2 separate regions of the Homo sapiens genome follow, and region 2 is reported to be linked to region 1. Evidence: microRNA targets listed by miRTarBase, many of them from high-throughput screens and not tested one by one. Region 1 holds a microRNA gene; the other region holds the end of a gene's coding sequence.

Region 1 (3,098 bases):
ACTTTACAAGCACACTGCAGAGATTAAATGAGATTAAATATATAAAAGTGCTTTGTCAACTAAAAATTATGCTGTTCTCTTCCCTGGCCATGATATCTGATAAGTAATACACAGATTATGGACTGAAATGATATCCACATTGAGAAAAGGAAAAAAAAAAAGGTCATTCTGCACCAAGATATTTTCTCTCAGTTGTATTTGTTCACTATGTTTTGGACTTTTCAGAATAAAGTTGTTTAAAATACATAAATGAAAAGTAGTACCAAAAATGTTCACATGCAGCATCAAATCTAGTTTTCAGTTTTTCAGAAAACTCAAATGATTTCCCAGATCATCTAGAAGGGTATAAACTACAATTACGCTACAGAAGCAATAGAGAGATCAATGTCAAGGCAATGGTTCTATTTTTAAAATCTCAAAAGATGCCTTCAACACAGTGAAAGTTCAGGAGAATGAAATAAGCACCCAGAAGGGTGTATTCATTTCCACTGAGATTCTGCAGTATCGGTTTTTCTTCATTGTGAGCTTGATTAATTTTGCCAGTACAGTTACAATTAAAATAAGTAAGCAAAATTTGAAACCCTGATTTGACTTTGAAAAGTTAAATTTTCAAGGTTCTTAAGACCTTCAAGGAACTGAACACAAGCAGCAGGGACATCCCGAGGATATGATGATGGCAAGGTACTGAGGAGATATGGAAAGTAACCACGAGATAGAAAAAAAGGACAAAAATAATAAACGGAGGTGAAACTCTCACCAGAAAAAAAAAATCACTACGGAAATGATATCTAAATCTTTCTTACGTTACAAAAGAAATTTGATTAATGGACTTGGAAACCCACCTAATTTCTGGGTCACTATTTGATAAATGATTATTTGATAGCCATGACCAGCTGCTATGTACCATATCTGACACTTGGGACATATCAAAGAATAAATAAACAAAATGTTCTGTCTTCAGAGAGTTTATATTTTTTAATGAGGCCGTACCTACAGTAAGTAGATATGGGGAAATGAAGAGCAGATAAAGTATTGAAACCTGGCCTCAGATTCATCAGGTACCAATATTTTATCTACTCTTCACTCCCCCAAATACAGCCTGCCTTGGGTGCCTGAAACTTCCCCCTCAGGTCACAGTTATTTACCAAGATCACAACAAAGTATCTCCTCTATTGTTCTCCCCTGTGAGACCTGTTCTTTCAACAGGGCACCTACCACACTTCTTGTAGCATGTGAGTTTATTCACAAGACTTTTCTTCTCCTAGGTGTAAGATGCAGTAGGTGCTCAATACTTATTTCTTTTAATAAATCAAGAAAGCTAATAGTAATCTAAGTCTTTGAAAGGATAAACAGCAAGTACACTGCTTTATTTTGCCATTCAGTTAACAGGATAAATAACACTGTCGTTTCCCTAGAACTTTAAACAAATTATTGAGCACTTTAAAGAAATGTCTCCTTTCAAAAATCAAGCTTAGCTACTAAATTATGTGACCTACATAAACAAAAGAAAGGCAGTCTTGCTAGCTAATCTGTCTGCCTCCTTTCTTTCCAGAAAAAAAAACAAAAACAAAAAGAAAACACTCAATTTTTTTCATGATAATCAGTATTATGCCATAAAGACACAGAGACTGATGAGAAATATTTACATAGCTTCCAATTCTGACTACCAAGTAAAATTAGTAATGTGACAGCAAAGAAGTCTTGTAAGTAACACCTTAATCAAACGATTAAAGTGGACATCATCAATAATGAAGCAAGTCAAAATCACGTACCACCTAATCAGATGCAACATGCAGAATATAGCATCCCTTCTGTGATATTCCTGTAAGGATGCAAAACCTGAATCCAATTATGAGGAACAAATGATAAACCCAAATTGAGGGACATTCTATACAACAGGCCGATATCCTTCAACAACATCAAAACAATGAGAATCTAAGAAACACTGAGTAAGTGTTCAAGAAGGAGCCTAAAGACATAGCAAATAAAGGCCACTGATAATTCTGAACTGGATCCTTTCCTTATTAAGGACATTATTAGTGGCTCTCACAAAACTTCATTGAGGTGTAAAACTTAGATGGTAGTAATATATCATTGTTAATTTCCTTATTTTTATGGTTTGTATTGTGATTATGCAGAAAAATGCCCTCATGTGCACAAAATATATATCAATGTTTTGGAGGGTGACAGGGTATCATATAGAAATCTTATTGTCAGATGGTTCTGGTAAAAAAAATAACTTTGAACTGAGTTTGCAAATTTCCTGCAGACTTAATATTGTTTTAAAAATAATGTAGTTGGGGATTGTTATATTACAAAAGAAAAATTAAATAAAAAAAGACAGCTTTCAATTTAACAATTCCACATGAGAAACATGGTTTACTATCAACAAGCATTACCACCAAGTAACAAACACCACCACCTAGAATAAGCCCCTGTAACCAATAATCTTTGTTTCAAAACAACTTATGTGGACTTCTTTTTGTCTCTAAAAGCTTCCCCTTACTCCAAACCCCTCACAGATGCATCCATGGTCTGCAATGGCATGCATATCCAGCATTGCAGACCCTTGCTATTCCCAAATAAACTGTTTTAGAGAAAAAACACACAAAACAAACAAAAACAAATATCCCAGGATTCTGGATGATGCAAACTAAATAAATAAAAGTTTATTGTGGAAAAATCTAGATAATCGATTTTTATTTTTAAATTTAAACTTCCCTCCATCAATTTCAGCATCTAAATAACATAATAAGCTGCAAATTACTTTACAAAAAAAAAAACAAAAAACAAAAAACTAGGTACCGGGAATTGGTAAGTGGTCTATTTTGTAAAAACAATGTAGGGAAATATAAGTTATCAGTCATACTTGAAAATTATAAAGCCATTGCAAAAGACATAGGAATTATATTGTGTGGCAGACTGTATGTTCCCATAAACAGCTAAATTAGTATTTCCAGTCCCACATGTGTTTTCAGAAAGTCCCCATCAAGAGGTGCTACGTCCACACTGTATAAACTTGGGCAGGTAAGCTTTGGCTGACTCGTGACTTCTCTGGTCAACTGATTACAGAAGAAGTAATCCTATGTGAGTTCTAA
Region 2 (3,098 bases), not on the chromosome of region 1:
GCATCAACTTACAAAGTACACTATGTAAGAACTGAGGTAAGTTTGTAAGTGCACAACTAATAAATAAACCTTTTTAAGATAAGGATTTTGTTAGCAGAAATCTCTGGATTTTTTTTTTTAAAGGGACAGCATCTCACTATGTTCCCAAGGTTGGAGTACAGTGTCTATGCACAGGTGCCATCATAGCTCACTGCGGCCTCCAGCTCTTAGGCTCAAGTGATCCTCCTGCCTCAGCCTCCCAAGCAGCTGGGACTACAGGCATGCCACCATGCCCAGCTTGGAAAGTTGCTTTTATACAGAGTAGGATACTTCCCTACTCAGCCAATCCTGGAAATATGCTAAATGGATTAACTTTTCAAAGTACAATTCTTAGATTTGGTGACAATAAAAGCCAAAACTGTCTACTCTAACATGAACTACCACCTGAACTGGGCATGTACAGGAGAGGCAGGAGTGTAACCAATGATTTAGTCTGTGCACATGCTCTTCCTTTTTTTCTGAATACTCTTCCTCCTCTTTGCTAATGGCAAACTCCTACTTATTCTTCAAAACCCAGCTCTGATAGCATCATGCTTCTGCAATGCCTCTGAGCAGCATTACTTGCCCTCTCTTCTGTCCTTTTCCTCCATGCTCTTCTCTGATATGACTGTGAATCCACTTTCTGTTATGTCTCTCCACCAGATCACATTCCGTGATGGCACACACAATTTATCCAAACTCCTGATACACAAGCACTCCTCTTACAGCAGACATTCTGGAAGAAGTGGTTTTCAACCACAGCCCCACCTGAGAAATTACCTGGAGACAGATTTTTAAAAATACTTCTGCCTGGACCTCAGAGATTTATGTAGATGGGAGTGAGGGGAAGAGCTTTTCGTTTTTAAAACTCTAACCAAATAGAAACATTTTAACATGTTGATTGGCAGCCTCATGGGAATCAATCTGACTTAAATGGCAGGGCAGGTAGTGTGATATAAGGCTTCCCTTCCCTAAACTTTGAAGAGTCAAAGATGACAAGGAAAGCCTTAGAACTCAGGTCTACTTTAAATGCAATGACTTTTTTCTTAAATGCCACCATTGAATTAGGTTGACTCCAATAGTTTCCTTTACAAGCAGTTTCCCAGAAGCATTAAACCTAGTCATTGTGGAATGATGAGCAAATAGCCTTCACTTTTGTGGGCTCATCAAACCATGTGTATATACTCCTCATCTCTCAGCAAAAAACAGACGGTTTTCGCCCCCAAACCTAATAGAGCCAATCCTATTAGAAGACATGGCTTGGCTGAGACAATGTCGGAAAGTGTGAGTTACTAATTTTCTTTTAGTGACTGCATTTTTGTCACTATGACACCTAGCTATTGTTTGTCCTTCCCTCTGTCAGGACTGAAGGTTTATGTTTCACTATAAACCCTGGCTTATTACCAAGCAGCACATCCTATGGCTGACCTAGCATGTTTCTTATTCATGTTTACTTACCCTAAGATAGGAAAATTCCCCACCCCTCCTGTCAATATTCCTAAAGATTTTAAGATTATTCCAAGTTGAATTTAAGATGAATCTGGGCCAGCCAAGTCAGTGAAATAAGCAAGGGTCAGAAAATGATTAGAATTCTGTCATTTACTATGTGTAATGGTTTCCTAAGCCTCAATCTCCTTAAGCATAGAGTGCAGTGTTGTGTGAAGTAAATAAAATGTTAATGTACCTTGTAACAGTACCTAGGAAAAAGGTACTTAAAAAAAAATCTGACCCTACCTATCTAGAAGCTAGCCAGAAAATAATCAGCCTGTGGTTCATATGAAAGTTCAAAAAAAATATTTATTTATAAAAAATACAATGGGATAAGTTTATGCTGAGAAATGCAGCAATAAATACAGTTGAAGAAAACAGAGCAACTCTACATTGATACATTGGCACAAACAGGAAGAGCAAATGCATCACCCAGGCCTAAATGTCCACAGGCCACTTTTGTACATGCTCTTTTAGAAACACCACTCTGAAAAGATCTTGTTCGCTAGGTAAGAGAATGAGTACACATATAATCACAAATGCACACTGATCATGACTTTATTTAAAAATTAGCAAACAATACTGTAGAAACATTGATATGTAAATTTCTAAAATGCTGCATCTTAAATTTAGTTGGCAAAGACCACATTTAGCAATAAGCATGAGTTTAGTCTTCCATGTAGAAACCAGATACACTAAACTGTAAAAAAAAAAAAAAAAAAAAAAAGTTTCCTATTGTTTGAAAATACCAGTTTAATATAAGATTGTAAAAATGCATAGATTTTTGCATAAAAGAACTGGCTGTACAAGAGTACTCCCCTTTCACAGTATTCCTTTTTACTTCATATGCGAGTTATTGATTATGCTGTAGGATTTAACTATTACAGCACTAAAAGGCAACTATTGAGGGAAGAGGCAGAAAAAGGAAAAAGGAATGTACGTAAGGCAATTTTTCTTAAAAGTACAATAAGCTTAATAGTGTTTTAGGAAGACAAGATAAAAATTACTCAAGGCTAGCTTGGTTCTCACTGAATAAAAACAAAGGACTAAATACTGAGCTCCTTCTGTGTGGATCTAATAATCAATGCCTTGGTCGCTATATTGGTAATCTCTGGGGTAGTCATCCTGGTACTCGCCATGATACTCATCAGGGTATTCTGCCTGATAATCACTATCACTGATTTCCGAACCATTTGTTCCTGTTCCTTGGCTTCCGTTGTGAATGACAGGTTCTGTAGGAGCAGCACAGTATTTGGGATCATATACTTGCCGCCCAAGCCCATACACACTCATTCCTTTCTGGGAAGCAACTTTGTTGGTACCCATCTGTAGGGAAATTGTCGAGTTGTCCACCGGCTGTAATGTTAGCTTCTGATCATAGATGTCTCTTCTGGTACCTGGTGCTAACATCCCTGCCTGGTATTAGAACATAGTATAAAAGTTAAAACAGCAGCTAGAATCTATTCTTGTGAATAATTTATAAATTATAGAATTCACATTGAATATGAACAGTAATACATGAACTTTCATTTGGTTCAGGGGTAAAGCTAGCTTAACCAAAATATCCTGATACCGAATCACTTCCATGAAGC

What was found. Region 1 holds the annotated microRNA hsa-miR-577 (UAGAUAAAAUAUUGGUACCUG, at 1,056-1,076, opposite strand). A microRNA usually pairs through its seed, bases 2 to 8, with sites in the 3' UTR of a target mRNA and lowers its output. Matches are read on the target gene's strand: a 7mer-m8 pairs with bases 2 to 8, a 7mer-A1 pairs with bases 2 to 7 and ends in A, and an 8mer does both.
Region 2: the mRNA of CNN3 is a reported target of hsa-miR-577. Seed matches in the 3' UTR shown: 7mer-m8 at 2,501-2,507.

The regions. Positions count from the first base shown.
Region 1 is chr4:114,654,752-114,657,849 of GRCh38, reverse strand. MIR577 (microRNA 577) reads right to left here and starts at 1,091; the gene lies at 996-1,091. All of the region lies in intron 2 of UGT8 (UDP glycosyltransferase 8), which reads right to left.
Region 2 is chr1:94,895,162-94,898,259 of GRCh38, forward strand. It overlaps CNN3 (calponin 3), which reads right to left. Exons shown (of 7, transcript NM_001839.5): 7 at 1,796-2,922. The coding sequence ends at 2,581. SLC44A3 (solute carrier family 44 member 3) reads left to right here. Exons shown (of 15, transcript NM_001114106.3): 15 at 1-85. Among named protein-coding and RNA genes, the nearest start is that of CNN3-DT, 30 kb to the right of the region's middle.